Linked DNA regions of Homo sapiens: region 1 is linked to region 2. Evidence: fine-mapped expression QTL. A gene starts in region 2. The other region holds a variant in brackets. All regions are shown on one strand. Distances are from middle to middle.

Region 1 (8,350 bases), 38 kb before region 2:
TCTGACAAAGGGCTAATATCTAGAATCTACAATGAACTCAAACAAATTTACAAGAAAAAAACAACCCCATCAACAAGTGGGCAAAGGATATGAACAGATACTTCTCAAAAGAAGACATTTATGCAGCCAAAAGACACATGAAAAAATGCTCATCATCACTGGCCATCAGAGAAATGCAAATCAAAACCACAATGAGATACCATCTCACACCAGTTAGAATGGCAGTCATTAAAAAGTCAGGAAACAACAGGTGCTGGAGAGGATGTGAAGAAATAGGAACACTTTTACACCATTGGTGGGACTGTAAACTAGTTCAACCATTGTGGAAGTCAGTGTGATGATTCCTCAGGGATCTAGAACTAGAAATACCATTTGACTCAGCCATCCCATTACTGGGTATATACCCAAAGGATTATAAAACATGCTGCTATAAAGTCACATGCACATGTATGTTTATTGCAGCACTATTCACAATAGCAAAGACTTGGAACTAAGCACCAACCCAAATGTCCAACAATGATAGACTGGATTAAGAAAATGTGGCACATATACACCATGGAATACTATGCAGCCATAAAAAATGATGACTTCATGTCCTTTGTAGGGACATGGTTGAAGCTGGAAACCATCATTCTCAGCAAACTATTGCAAGGACAAAAAACCAAACACCGCATGTCCTCACTCACAGGTGGGAATTGAGTACATGGACACAGGAAGGGGAACATCACACACGGGGGCCTGTTGTGGGGTGTGGGGAGGGGGAGGGATAGCATTAGGAGATATACCTAATGTTAAATGACGAGTTAATGGGTGCAGCACACCAACATGGCACATGTATACATATGTAACTAACCTGCATGTTGTGCACATGTACCCTAAAACTTAAAGTATAATAAAAAAAAAAAGAAAAAGAAAAAGAAAAATTATAACTTTTCTGGAGTATTCTCATGGTTTTAAATTTCATATTATAGATTAAGCAGATACAAATTTGGCTTGACAATGAAATTAGCAAAACATAGTCTTAAAATTTATTATGATAAAAACTATTGAAACAAAATAATTTAATTGAAAACATTTGAAGTCACATGTGGAGAGCCATCACTTCCATAGTTTTTTCAAAAAGGTTGTATAATATTCATAACCAAGATTATGAATATGATACATTTTGAAATCAAATAAAGATGGATGCAATCCTAGGTAAATCATACAAATTGTTTAATCTAGTTCAAGCCAGTTTAATTTGATTAGCCTCATTTTCTCCAGGTATAACATGGCAATTGCAACACTTACTTCAGAGGGTTGTTAACATAAACAATAATGATTAAGTGTTAACTAACATTTTTGAGGGTTTGCCATGTGCCAGACACTGTGCTAAAGCACTTTACATATACACCATTAGGATTATATAAGCTGATGCACAAAAAGATACGTAGAAGCATTTCTGGCATATGGTAAGCCCTAAGTTATTAGTTTGTTTTACAAATAAGTACAAATATAAATAAGGCTAAATAAGAAAAAAAGCTGCCTTTAATGAACACATATACTAGTGGGGAGATAGACCTATAAATGGATAAAAACAACACCATGTAGTAAGTGCTGTTATGTTGATAAAGATTAGAGGCAGCACAGAGGAGGATATAATCAGACAATGGTACTCTAAGGTGCCCTTTCTGTCTTTCTTTCTCCTCCTGCCTTCTCTTTTTCTTCATTTCTTCCTGTCACCAATCCATTACCTAAACAAATGTCCAAAGTTATGAGTGAATGCAACTTTATAGCAGAAGATGAAAGAACATTCCATTTCCATTTCCCCTCTCTCCCACATCAAGCTCCCATTCCAAAGCTGCTATAAATTGGCATAAGCAGGATAACTATTTAGCTCTTTCTGTCTTACATTTAGCACTATATTGCTGTTTATTATGTTGTGGGTAAAAGCTATGCCAGGAAGATTGTGTATTCGAGCTGATAGAGCAATGGTGTATTATGTGGTGAAAAATCTCTTATAATGAATGAAATTAGCATCTACCGGGAATGCCATAAAGAAATTGGTTAGCAAATGAAAAACTGTTTACATCAGTGATCCTTTACGTTTCATGCTAGTTTAAATGTTCCTTTTTGGGCATTGTATACAGTCTCCTTGCTATCTAAATGTTTAGAGAAAGGCTGATGTCAGGCAACATAACATAATTGTTTATCACAGGAATGCTCTTTATAAGACAAATGAATAAGGGTGAGTAATGAGATTCTAACATTTATTTAGCACCTATAATGCTCTAGATACTCATTTAAATGTCATTTCATACAGTGTTAGGTTTGATCTTCCCAACTACCTTTAAAATTTTGTGAATGAGTGAGTAAGACAATTTACATTCTCAGCACACTATTCTTTTCTTTCTTTCATCCATCATTTTATTCCAAAGAAAAGAAAATCCTTAGAACTCTGCCCTGGAAGCAATTCACTTTTTTCTCCCAGATTATGCTCTCTACCTTGACGAAATCAGACAAAAGCAGATTATTCTGTTTTTGCTTGCTTGTTTTTGATTCTCTTGACTCTCTTTAGACCACACCAGTTGCTTACTTTCTGTTCCCATATTCCTCATCCCTTCACTAATATCACCTCAGGCAAAGAGTTCTCAGTGCAATTTGGATATCTTTCTAGAAGTATAGTTTTCAAACTTTAGAAGTATCATTTTTATTATGCATAGTTTTATCTGGGGAGCTTGTTAAACATTCAGGTTATTGGAAGACATCTCCAGAGATTCTGATTCACATGATAAAGGGTGGAGTCATGGAATCGAAAATTTTAGCAAGTACTACAGTCTCCATCTCCATTAACATAAGAGGCCCCTAGTTCTTGCAGAAACATCATTCTAGACTGGATAATCCTCTCCTCAGCTTCCTTATCATCACATTCTGTAGCTTCTTTAATGTCATCAGCATCAGGCTATTGGTCTTTCTCTCCAAAAATGTCTCACCATTATCCTCAGTAAATTTGATAGCCATTTTGATTAGCCTTCTAATACTCTAGTCTCAAAATTCTTCAAATCCCTTTCAATCAAAATCATTAAAAGCTATATTTCAGATTTCGGCATCTTCCTAAATTGTGCTAATACTTTACATTTTTAATTTTGAAATCATCCTCTTCATAAAAACTTTCACTCTTTCTAACTTTTAATAAGCTATTTGTTACTCTCACTTTATGATAAGTCTTCTATCCTTCAAACTGTCCTTATTTATCCAATCAATCATGATAATAGAAATTTCCAACTACTCAATGCTTACTATGGGTTGGGCCCTGTACTTAGTATTTAATTTACCTCATTTTGAAAATATCCTGTGAGGTGATTATTATTCACCTCATTTTATAGATGAAAATGAGGATTAAGGAGATTAAAAAACATATCCATGGATATACAGCTTATAAATAGAAGAAGCTGTATTTAAAACCATGTTTGTATGACTCCAAAATTCTTACATTGATTCACATAGCTTTCTTACTCAAGTCAGATAATATGGTGAAGACATTATTTTTTCTCACTTTTCCTAAACTTTCTATGGTACTCATTCATTCTTGCCTACACACCTTTACTTAACTATGCTTTTTATCTACAATGATT[C/G]CAAAAATCAATGAATAAATCAGGACCTAAATCTTGTTTTTGTAAGCAGGGTATGGTAGGAAGAGCGCTATCTATGGAGTCAGGCAGACCTTGACACAAATCACATTCCAGAATTTACTGACCATGTGACTTGACAACTCCCACTGCCTTGTCTCTAATCCTTAGTTTATCATCCACCGGAGTTAATATTATTCGGCACACATGAAATGACAACAATCTACATATGACTATAGATTAAATAATGTCTTGTATTTGATGTATCCAGAACAACACTTGAATACGAGCTGGCACTCAACAAATTCTGGACTGTAAGCTCCCTGACACAGATTCCTGCATCTCACCCCCAATGCTAATCAGAAAAAAGAAGGTCACATTTGTTGCATTTAGTAGAAACACAGGAAAAGTCCATTATAGCAGTTGTCAAAACAGCTTGTAGTTGTCGATGTGGTATCAGAAAGAACCTACATTTTAAATCCATTGTTAATCCTAATATTCAGGTTTGGATACATCTAGTTTAAGCTAGCCTTCACCTATGTGCTCAATACTTTCTAAATTAAAAAATAATACTAAATAACTGAGGCTTTGACCTTTAAAAGTTGAGGAAAATCTCTTCAATGTAATCATATTTCATTTAGCATATTTATTTAAGTCAATAAGAGCTAGATGTTTATGATTAATTTCTATATTCATACTTTTCCAACAAAACAAATACATATTTATAATTCTACTGTACTAACATGCCAGTCATATTTCTACAGGAATTTCAAATGTAGTTCCATATCTCAACATGTGATACTACTTGCAAAAGTCAGATCAGTGGTATCTCATCACAAGTGTCAGTGTTGAGTTCATCATCCTGGGCCAAACTATAAAGAGAACCAACTACTTTTTGAACCATAAGTTGAACACTTGTGAAAGCCTTGTTACATCCATTGACGAATTTCATATAAACTATATTATACATGGGTGATTTTATTTGCCAATTATGTGATATTTATATGTTTACTATATCTAAAATTTTATTTTAAAGATGTGTCATTTGGTCATTGCTTTACACTTGTTTTCTAAGTAAAATAGAGGGAGTTCTTTGCCATGAGTGCATTACATAACACAGCTATAAATGAACATGGCTAATTGGCCTATATGGAACTTTTCCTTAGTCAGGCAGGTAACTTTCTTGACCCTCTAATGGGCATCTAGTTTCTCAATGTCAGATTCAATTTAACCAGAAGGCTTTTTGTGTATATAAGGGTCTTGCTCCTCTTTTCTGAACATTTTGTGTCTTCCAAGGTTGTGACACTTAGATTATTTTTCTCTTGTTATCATGGAACAAAATCTACTGAAATCCTGAAGGCAATATTATATGTTGTTATATGATTGTTCAGGGGCAGAATGATACTCAGTTCCATTAAGGGACAGCCTTTCAATGTCAAGAGACCAGAGGGTTTGTTAAAATTGGACTTACCGTCATAGTTCAAAGAGAACAATGTGGCCAATATGCGACCACTATGTGGGAAGAAAAATCTTGCTTTTCATTGCCGGCATGGTTTACAAGAATGATCTAATTCCTGAGAAGATTACTGAGATCAACAATAGCTTGCATTCAAAGGCTAGCCTTTAGGTTTTTATTTTTAAACTTTAATGATGGCAGATTACAATTTATATTTTAAGGAGGTGAGATGTTATGTTTGCATTTTGAGAGCTATATGAGTGGTCAAAGAGAGATAATCTGACATCCTAAGGCTTAGAACATGACTGCTTATGTCTGAGGTTCTACGGGTTTAAAAAATATACAGATACTTTAAAAAATAAGGTGAATACTGAAGACACTTATACAAAGAAATAATGACTCTTACAACTTTACCCAAATATATTCCTTAGTTCTGTCAGTTCTTTTTCCTTGATCTGCAGGTCATCTTCTAATCTTTCTATTGTGATAACATATGATTCACTGACTTTTTTCTTCCATTCATCTAGTAAAGAAGAACAAATGAGATTGATTCATAGTTGTGTTTTGCAAAATGTAGACACAGATCATAACATACAAGTAATCAAAACTGTTTTTTATTCTAGATTCTACAATACTTAATTTAAATTACTGATTGTGTGTTTAAAATGCAGATGTTTATATTTAAAATGCAATCATATTGAATTGTAGTAATGAAGAACCCATTCGATATTGGATAATATATTTACATAGAAAAATATATTTGACTTATTTCATTTGATTTTATTGCATTTTAATTATAGCAATCTCTAGTTGCAAGACGGTTTTTAGTTTTTAAATACTAGATACTTAAGATATAATTCTAAAATCCCTACATTCAGCAATATTCCAAATTTTTTTCTGTAACATTATACCAAGGAACTAAAATAATATTTTTGTAAGAAATTTCTTGTTTCCTATAAAGATCTTCAGAAAAAAATAATTTGAGTTCAGATAGTTTTTCAAAGACTTTCACAAAACATGCTGCCTTATCTTCCGTATACAAATTAACACATATTCCAATGAGTTGTTAGTTATCAGTAACTATAATTGAACCATATTACACTTAAGGAAATAAGAATAATTAGAATAATTACCAGTACAAGTTTGGGTTGGTCTAGATTTATAATTTCCCATTTATTATAAGTTTCTTCCTTTCTCCAGGGCAGTTCTTCAAGTTATAAGATTCCAAGTTCAAGTGCAGTGACAGTCCAGTTGAAAAATACTTTGATAGTCTGGCTAAAAATAAGCCCAACTGCCAAATGGAATGTCATGCAACAATGATAAAGAACAAAATCGTGTGTGCTTTCGAGGGTGAAATCATAAAGGGAACTAATCAGTCTGTTTAAAAGAACTGTATCAAAAATAAATAGCAAATGTTTCAATAGGATTATTTGCTTCCATCAATTATCTACCCATACATACTTTCATGGACCATTTATTTAACAGATAAATCTAGAAAATGATTCAGTTACATCCGAAGTTCACAAAAGAGCTGTTAAAACTACATAGACCTGTTTTCAAGATCATTTTCTCCTAAGCCAAAATAATGGCAGTTGGTAAAGAGTGGTAATAGAATGTGTCTACATACATAAATAAATAATAAAAATTCATTACCTCTAGCATATAACTAATAGAAATGAATGCAGGTTTGGCCTGTATAAGAGCTACATAATTATGTTTGTATGAAGAAATTCTCAACATAGACCAAGATTTATACTATTGTGGATTATTCCGACCATAAGAATCATAGATCAGAATGTAAAACATTAAGTTCTACAAATAGCAATTCGTAAAATAATAAATGACAAGAACAGTAAGATTAAGAATAAGAAAATTGAGCATTTGCTATGTGTCAGACCCTAGTTTACATGCTTTACATATATCTCATTATTTAATCTCATACATACAGTGCTGCTAGGTAGATATTATTCACAAATTATGGATGAGAAAACACAAAGTTACTAGTAAGTTGGAAGTCTGGAATCAGTTCTGACCATGTGACTCTAATATCCAAGCTAGATATTATTGATTTGTCTTCCAGAATTTCTCTTTCATGCACCTTCCATTTACTTTATTAGGACATTTCTCTTTGTATGCATATTGTATGCCTATTTCTACTGATATAAAGAACCCAGTCTATGATGGAGAATAAATGGGAAACCCAGAAAGAAAACATTAAATTTTTCACTATATATTTATTTCAGATAATCTTCTTATACCTAGAAAGTATAAATTTTAATCTTCAGATTCACATCCAGAGGATATAGCTTTAACTTAACAGATACAGATTTCATATTTTCTATAGTTAAATGTTCAAACAACTCTCTTTTTGAATAAATGATTAGACAAAGTTAGGACTCACCATATATTTTTGCTCAGCAAAAGTAATAGAAGTTTCAGAGGTAAGGCTTCCAGACTGATGAGATATAGTTGGCGCATCAGGTGTCTGGCTTCATAGACACTTTTTGTCCTCATCTGGACATATTCTCCTTTTCCCTTCTTATCAGTACATGCCTACCACAGCTGTTGATACTTGCTATACTGCAGTGGCATCTGGTTACCTTGGTCCATACACTCTACATTCTCCTTGTTTGAAAACCAGACATCTTCAGTTCCACCAGCTTTCTCTAAGCACTTCTGTGACCCCCATTTTCTCAGTTTGGAAAGTCTTTGTTTTGTCCAGGGACCTTCCTGCTTAATCTCTTCTTCCTTATCTTGAAGACCATACTGGATAGCTTTCTTTAAAAGACTTGCAATCTCCCAGGGCTACACTTTAGGAAATAATGCACCAGCTCTTTCTCCTCTCAGAGTTTCTTAAAATAATCATGGTTTCTATACTCTGAATCCAGAAGGACAAAGATGGGAGCCTTCTAGAGGACAACTAAATATATTTTTCTTGATCTCTTTTCTTATTTCTAATATCTCGGATCTTCCATCCGTGTGTGTGTGTGTACATGTATGTTTTCCACATATGGAGGAAAAATTAGCTCTTACATCATCTTCCACTGTGTTTCTAATTTCCTGCTTGGGACACAAGTCTGATGTACTGCTTTTTAGAATTTTTCCTTTTGATTTTCAAGAATACTTTTATTCTCTTAAAAAGCCTAGGTTTTACAAATGAAAGCTTTGGCTTTCAAAGGTGTGATTTCTGCGATGAGTTTGAAAATCCAATCAGCAACTCAGTTGAATTCTCCCACATTCTAATGCAATACATTTTGCTGGAAATAAAATGAAACGATAGCAATAT
Region 2 (8,350 bases):
ATATACTAATGCTAAAATACTTGCTTCTTTACAACATTTCGCTCAATTATGGACAGCATATACATAGGTTGTCCCATAAGATCATAATGGAACTGAAAAATTCCTATCACCTAGTGATGTTGGAGCCATTGTAAAGTCCTAGCACGATGCACCACTCAAGTGGTGATGCTGGTATAAACAAACCTGCTGTGCTGCCAGTTTACTAAACTACAGAACATACAATTATGTATATAGTATATAATAATTGGTAATAAATGACTATTTTACTGGTTTATGTATTTACTATACTATACTTTTCATTGTTATTTTAGAATAAATTCATATGATACATACAAAAAAAAGTTAAGCATAAAATGGCCTCAGGCAGGTCCTTCAGGAGGTCTTTCAGAAGGCAGCATTGTTATCATAGGAGATGACAGCTCCTGAACTTTAGTAGGACTATAGAGGTAGTGATACTGATGATCCTGACCCAGTGTAGGCCTAAGCTAATATGTTTGTGTCTTCATTTCTAACCAAAATATTTAAAAAGTAAAAATAAAAACAACAAAATAAACCCTAACAATATAAAGAAAATATTTTTGTACAGCTGTACAGTGTTTGTGTTTTAAGCTGAATGTTATTACAAGAGAGTCAAAAAAATTAAGAAGTTTATAAAGTAAAAATGTTATAGTAAGCTAAGGTTAATTTATTACTGAAGATCAATAATACCTGTAAAGCACTTGGCAGCACACAGTACATTGTTCAACAAAAGAGAGCTAATAAGTTTCTGTTTTTTTCTTTTTTCAAAGAGCAGCCAATAGTCAAGTTTAGCACTAAGAATTATCTATTTCCAAAAAATAAAAATAAAAAAATTATCTAACTATGCATTTCCTGGTATCTAATTTAATTTTTACTAAACTGATAATAATTATTTTCTTAAATAAAATTGTAAATTAGATTGTTTTACACATTTTTAGGCTTCAAACCAGAACTTGGATGCTTTACTTTGACATCATCTTTACAAAGAATCATTGTTTTGTATGTAAATCATAAGAATGAAAAAGTGCCTTGGAAGCCATGTAGATGAATAATTCTAAAATACCTGTCCCTGGACTGGTGTCAGTTCATGACAGTTTTCATTAGCCCCTTAACATACATAGAAAAACAACAAAGGTTTTCATGTAACCAAAATTTTCACACAACTAAATGTATTCAATTTAAAAAGCTATTCTTCATTCTGAGACCATGTCCTTCCTACTTTTCTGTTTTAAAATGTCTTATTTTGTGTGTGTGATTTCTCTTTTATATATTTACTTGTCCACTCTGTATCTTGTCACATTTTCCTTTTATTTTTAAGCATTGTGGCCTCTGGCTATCAATAATCACACAAAAATGCAAGATAAAAAGTACTGGCAAAAGTCTAGTAATGACAGTGTTAAACCACCCTTCCCTCAAAGCAAGAATCCCCATTAAGGGAGAAAGAGTGTTAGGAAAAATAGCTAATGCATGCTGGCTTAATACCTAGGTGATGGGTTGACAGGTGCAGCAACCAACCATGGCACACGTTTACCTATGTAACAAACCTGCACATGGACCCTGGAACTTAAAATACAAATTAAAATTAAAAGAAAAATCCCCATTAAAGTATTCCCGAGAACTATTCATATTTGAATGAGTTGTCTTAGGAAAATAATTTTCTATATACATACCCAAAACAAAACAATATTCATAAAAGACTGACGATATACGTGATCTACAATTTTACGAGTAAAATTTGTGAAAATCACTATACTACTTACAACCTAAAAAAAGTCATGAAAATCATAAAATATTTGTTTTCAAAGCAGAATAACTTCAAAGATTCTTTTAAAAAAGAAGGAAAGTGTTTGCAAGAAAGAAAAAAGTCTCTAAAGTATTAAAGGTGGAAGACTAAAAAGAAAATGTAAATTAGTAAAGTATAACATTACCAGAGTGAATTAATAAGATGGTAAAAGAATTCCATTTATCTCCATATAGCTTTTCCAAACATTGAAGGGCACAAAGTGTTGATCCTCCATTTCCTTAAAAACAAAGTTAAAAAAGCACAATTTATTTAATAGAAACCTACTAAAACTTTGTCATGACAGTAAATTTAGGTGTTATATAACCTTAAGGATTTGCCTTTCAGGAATAAGTAAATAGATGGACATCAAAGGTATTGGCAATAGAACAAAATTAAAAACATCTCATAGCAAACAACCAATCAATAAATTAGCAATGAAACCCAGACAACAACCCTCAGTAATAAATGATGAGGTAATATTCTCCCCAAAATAGTAATTATAAGAAAGAAGAATCAATTACACAATCTGTAACACTAGAAGACTGATAAATATAAACATTCATACAGAGTTACAAATCACAAAGCCCATTTAAATAATTCTCCCAAATGACACAATCAAAAACACAAGTTAGAGTTCCTTTCGAAAAAAGATTTTTAGAACTTGGATTCCCAAAAAAAAATCTTAAATATAACTACCACACTAGTTATCTTGGGCCAGTTACTTAACTCTTGAGTACCTCAGATTCTCATCTATGGAAATAATATCACGCCTGTAATCCCAGCACTTTGGGAGGCCGAGGCAGGTGGATCACGAGGTCAGGAGATACAGACCGTCCTGGCTAACATGGTGAAACCCCGTCTCTACTAAAAAATACAAAAACAAAATTAGCCAGGCTGGTGGCAGTCACCTGTAGTCCCAGCTACTCGGGAGGCTGAGGCAGGAGAATGGCCTGAACCTGGGAGGCGGAGCTTGGAGTGAGCTAAGATCGCACCACTGCACTCCAGCCTGGGCAACAGAGCAAGACTCCTTCTCAAAAAAAAAAAAAAAAAAAAAAAAAGAAATAATAACAGTACTGACCTCATAGTTGTAAGGATTAAAATAATGTTGGCTAATTAGAATAATGCTAATGTCATATTAATGTCATATACAGATATCTTATCTCTGGTATCAGGGGGCTTCAACTTTAAGTATCACATAGAAAAGAGCATTCAGAAAAACAGCATTTATTTCTATTTGCAATGGACGGTCAAAGGGCAAAGTTGACCTAAACTAGGGTTTTCAAATATATGTATTATATTTAAGCCATGTGACAGTGTTCTTTTGCATTCTGCATTATGTCCCTAAGAGGTCAAGAGTATTTTTTCCCACTAATTGCTTTCTTCATGTAAATTGCTGGAGGAACTCTGGAGTGGAGAGGACCTCAAGGGTTCTACTGATAAGGTCCAAAGGAGTATTCCTATCTGAATAGTGTGAATTTCATTAAAACTAATAAAATTTTCTTTTAAGTAACATTCTGGAAGTTTTTCAAGGTAAGTCATAATGGGTAAGAACAGTTGCTATTCCTTTTATCTTTCTAAAAAAAGTCAATTTATGTTCAAATTTTAAAGTTTGTAAAGCTGTGGGTAGAGATATGCAGCTTATACACTGTAAGTCACAGAAACCTTTTCTTCAATGATTATTCTGCTTAGGACCTATATTATAAAACTGACCATAAAGCGCGTACCAATTTTGGCTCCAGCAGGATCCACAAAAACGTGATATTGAACTCCAAGGGGTAACTCCTTTCTTTTCAGCTTTTCTGACAGCTGTTGGTTGTAAGCAAGTTCCTGTTTTTCATCAGCCGCTGTTATTGCAACTATGTCCCAGAATTCTCCACGTGCTACAAGTTTGCCTATTTGGAAAAAGCAAGGAAATGAAAACAAAAATTATCAGAATTTTCTAGTTGCCACAGGTTTGCCTATTGAGAAAGATGATAAAGAAGGTAATATCCATTATCATCTTCCAAAATGTATCTTTGGCTTTTGAAAGTTAGGGAATAATTAGTGGTGCATTAATACGATTCAAAATAGTTATAATGAAGACTGTTCACAAGTTCCTTTTTTTTCTTTTAGATCACTCCCTCCTTTTATGGTTTGCAATCCAATTTAATTATAAATTCTGAATGACATAATGTTTCTTGATTAAGAGAGCGACTTTTAACTTGCCAAAGACTATTGCCTCAATTCTTCAATAAGAAGAGGAGATAAACATAAACAAATCTCCAGCTTTGCAAATCAATTCTTATGTATCACGGACACTTGGTGTTAGGTGACTAAGAAAGACACAACCCAAAGATCCCTTCCCTCAATGTTGCTGTTTATAAATGTGGGTACTTTATTTTCTATTACTTTAAGATGAACCATGCAAACTTACATAGGCTGTTAGAATATAACATAAAATTCTGGATAACAGAAGGTCCCAACTCTCTGATGACATCTTTAAAAGACAGTGTGCACTTTTAGTAGACAGTTGGAATCTCTTTATTGATAAACAAAATGATTTAGCATTTTAATTAGTTAACAAACAGAACTTGTCAGCTAGAATCTAATAGTCCTGAAAGTTTTACTGTTATCCAAGAATTAGTCCCAGTATTTTTTAAGCAGTCACTGCAACACAAATATAATCACTTTTATTAGACAGGTGTACAGGGATTAAGTGTCATAGCCAATTTTTTGATAACAAATTTCTTCCTTTTAATTTTTAATCCATAATTCCTCCATGTTCTGTTACTCCCTCAACAAACGGTTACATTACAGAAGTAGATGAACGTAATGTAAAGCGTGAAGTAGATAGGGGGCTGGCATCTACTCATAAAGTTCAAAATACTGTGCTTCGTATCTTTTAGATTTATTTAAAGCAACTTTTATTAATGAGCTAATCAATGCATAACTTCACTAGTAAGATTTTCTTCTTCTTCCTCCGCCCTCATTTTTAATATCTATACTACTAAGAATAAAGTAAGCAACAAGCATGTCAAGCAGGGACAGTGAAAAGAATAAAAAACTCAAAAGGATTATTAGCTAGCTACTCCTGGGGAGCGTCATAGGCCTACAGATGAGAAGTAAACGGGAAGTGACAGTCCAGCAAACCTCCTGGCACGTAAAAGCACCCTCCCTCTGCATTGCCCAGGAGAACTCCGGTGCCTTCTCTGGTACCTCTTAGCTCGGAAAACCTCCGCAATTTTCGCTGGGTGGCTTCTCGCAGCGATACTTCCGGAGGGTCCCTAGCAGCTGCCATAGCCCCACCTTCCCTGAGACCGCGCCGCACAGCACGCATGCGCCCTGGGGTGCGCCTCCGCCCGGTTGTTTCTGACCCGCCCCCTCCGTGCGTCGCCCACGTAACCACGCCCCCGGAGCGCCTTGGCTGGCGCCCGGAAAACCATGATGTGGAGAACTTGGATGTTGTCTTGTTTCTCTAGCAACGGTCTCAGGAGCAGATGGCCGCCCAGCGATTTGTCTGACTGTGTTGGGGCTGGGCCACTTGTCTCCAACTCATAAGGGCTTGCAGCCCAGTTGACCCGGTGAGTGGTTCAGTTTGGGTGACAAAATTGTTAGAACCGACCCGCTAAGGATAAGGCGAAACTACATTCTAGCTTCCCAGCTTTCACATCAAAGGCGGTTCGTCCTAACTGGTGGTTTGTTTCAGCCTGGAGCAGTTCCCCAGGATAGCCTGATAGAAGATCTCCGCCATCTCTCCTTTCCCCCGCCACCCCGGGCCATCTGCCCCCAACCCTGGGTCATGATACATACACAGTCTGAATATTTAAAATCTCTGCTCTTTCTAGGAACCTTAAGTTTGTGGTTCCTAGAGAGTGAGCCACCCCACCCCTCTGTTTTTTCTTAGTAGGCTACACACGACAGCCTCTCAAATAGTGTCTTTGAAAGTTGTATAAAATTCAGTCCGCAACCAGGCTCCAAATATTTTTGGTATTTTGGTTTCTTCTCTGGCATTCTTTTGTATATGCAGATTAATCTAGAATGTTCAATAACACTCTTAGGAATAAGTCAGCCTTTTTAGGTGTTTTTTTGGGTAGCTATATAAAGGTGTTCCTGTTATAGAACACGAGGTTTCTTGGTTTTACAGACCACTTCATCTTTACACAGAAGAAAACTGAATCAGAGAATAGTGAGTTAGTCAAGGTATCACAATTAGTAAGTAATAAAAGATTTAAGAAATATATTTCAATCCCAAACCCAGAACTTGTGGTATTTCACCATACCGTTTGATTTTTTGAGACGATTTCTCTGTATCAACGTCTTCATTAGGTACGTAGACATTCAGGGCACCATAAACTCTTGTCATAAATTTACTTAGTTTTTCTTCTCAGACTTGTTATACAATCGTGTTCTAATAGTGGAAACATTTGGATAAAATGGCAGATTAGATTACTCTTTCATAGTTTTACATTTAAAACTTCATTAATTAAAAAAACAGTATCTTATTGAAGAACATTTAGAAAATACAGAGACTTGAGTGAAAGTAACCAAAGGAGAAAGTAGCGAGAGAAGGTCAGAGAGAGAACAAAGGGCCATAGGAAGAATTTTGGTTTTTACTCTTGAGGGAAACAAAGCCATTGCAGGGTTTTGAAGTGACTTGGCTTATGTTTAAAGAGATCACTCGGAGATAGGAGAATAGATTATAATGGGGGATGAGGCAATGATAGAAGCAGGGAGACTTCTTTGGAGGTTACTGCAATATTGCAGGTGAGAGCTGGTGAAGGCTTGACCAGGATGGTAGCAGTGGGAATGGTGAGAAGTTGGTCAGATTCTGGATATATTTTTAAGACAAAAACAATAAAATGTGCTGATGGAATTAATGGGTGTGGACTGTAAGAGAAAAAGAGGAGTCAAAATGACTGCCTTGGGATGGATTGGCCATCAATTAAGATGGGTAAGTTTCCGACTGAGGAAGGTTTTTGGGGTAATAGGGTCCAGAATTTGATTTTGGACATGTGGAATAAAGAGACATGTGTATGCAGTGAATATGTAATGGAAGTTTGTGTGTGTATGTGTCTGTATGCATTATACATACGAGTCTAGAATTCAGGAGAGAGGTCTGGGCTAGAGATACAATTTTGGGAATTGTCAGCAAGAAGATAGAATTAATTTTAACTGTGGAACTAAGTGAGGTCCCAAGGGAGTGAAGGTCAGCAGAGCCTATATGTTTGGGGTCTGTATATTCTAATAAGGTGAAATAAAGAAGGAAGAAGTAACCAAATAAAAAATCCAGTGGTAACAATTGTGAGGAGACAAACAGAGTGATGTGTTAGATTCTATCATACAGAATATTAAATAGAGTATTTATTGGATCTAGGACGGTATCATACAGAATATTAGAGTATTTCTTGGATCTGGGAAGGATGGCCATAGAAATTGGATATTATTTTTTCTCAATATGACTATATCATGCAATCAAAATTTGCTGGAAATAAATATACCATATTATCAGCTATGGCTTCTGTTTTCTTTCTTTTCTCAAATTTTCATTAATATTAATTTTTAGTAAAAAAAAAATTAAAAAATACTATATATATGAGTAGGAGTAAATTTCCGTGGCAGTTGATTGTTGGAGGCAAAAAAAGTTTAGGGATTTTATTTAAGTTCATATTCACTATAATAAAACAGTGTGATATGACTGTTTAACATCTTAAGCTACCAGAGTATTATTATACTAGAGAATTCGCCACAGAGTTTTTCCAGGTATTTATCAGAATGTCATTTTACCAGAGTAAAATATATCAATCCAGCCAAGCTGTAAGCCCATTAATTCTGCACAAATCAAACACACAGGAAATAATCTGTTTAGTTTTGGATTCCACATTTTTAAAAAGATGTTGAACATACTAGACTATAATAAATTGAAAAATTATATTCTGTGGAGGCATTTGGGCTTTTTATTTCCAGGAGGAGAGTAGAGAGTATCTGAAGAGCTGCCATAAGGAAGAATGAGATAGATTTTTTAAAGCAACTTTATTGAGGTACAGGTTTAGAACATTTTCATCCCCCCATTAAAATGTCTTCCAACCCATTTACAGTTAATGCCAGTTACACTGTTTTTTTATTACTACAGGCATATAACTATGACTGTTGTGTGGAAATTATAGAGAAGAATGTTTTAATTTTCCCCCCTTCTTTATATGAGGAAGTTGAAGCCAAATGAATAGGGTCCTGGATTATATACTGTGGAGCTCGTAGTGCATGCTGTGGTCAGGCCAAGCTAGGGCTGTACTTGTTTCCAGTCCTTGTGCTTCATGGCTCTGTTTAACCACTGTTTCCTCCTGTTACCCTTCCTGACATGCAACGAAAGCAAAAATTGTCTTTTTGCAGTTTGTTTTATTTCGATTTATTTACTCAGCTAGCCTGTTCTCAATTTATTTCTTAAATATTTTTTTTCTCACTATGCCCTGTTGGAGGAACCCTCACACCCCTCAACTTTCTGTAGTGCAGAGAAACATTCTCCCACCCCTGAACTTTTATTATACTTCCTCCCTTAGTATTTTTGTAGATTTT

Alleles and levels. Positions count from the first base shown, and alleles are read on the strand shown. Sizes are in standard deviations (SD) of each study's normalised expression.
With allele C in place of G in region 1, the expression in skeletal muscle of the gene that starts at base 5,115 in region 2 is lower (small effect, 0.31 SD a copy in GTEx).

The links. PIP is the estimated chance that this variant, and not a neighbour inherited with it, causes the effect.
Region 1: its variant is the best candidate, but not a certain one, in a credible set for the expression of FPGT-TNNI3K in skeletal muscle (GTEx, PIP 0.52).

What each region holds. Positions count from the first base shown.
Region 1 is chr1:74,233,339-74,241,688 of GRCh38, reverse strand. FPGT-TNNI3K (FPGT-TNNI3K readthrough) reads right to left here. Exons shown (of 27, transcript NM_001112808.3): 4 at 5,479-5,587. It overlaps TNNI3K (TNNI3 interacting kinase), which reads right to left and starts at 6,302. Exons shown (of 25, transcript NM_015978.3): 1 at 6,198-6,302; 2 at 5,479-5,587. The coding sequence starts at 6,237. The variant C/G (reference allele first, on the strand shown) is at 3,615.
Region 2 is chr1:74,195,007-74,203,356 of GRCh38, reverse strand. FPGT-TNNI3K (FPGT-TNNI3K readthrough) reads right to left here and starts at 5,115. Exons shown (of 27, transcript NM_001112808.3): 1 at 4,997-5,115; 2 at 3,526-3,693; 3 at 1,947-2,039. The coding sequence starts at 5,078. LRRIQ3 (leucine rich repeats and IQ motif containing 3) reads left to right here and starts at 5,181. Exons shown (of 8, transcript NM_001105659.2): 1 at 5,181-5,361. It overlaps FPGT (fucose-1-phosphate guanylyltransferase), which reads right to left and starts at 5,115. Exons shown (of 4, transcript NM_003838.5): 1 at 4,997-5,115; 2 at 3,526-3,693; 3 at 1,947-2,039. The coding sequence starts at 5,078. RefSeq lists a silencer at 5,178-5,277.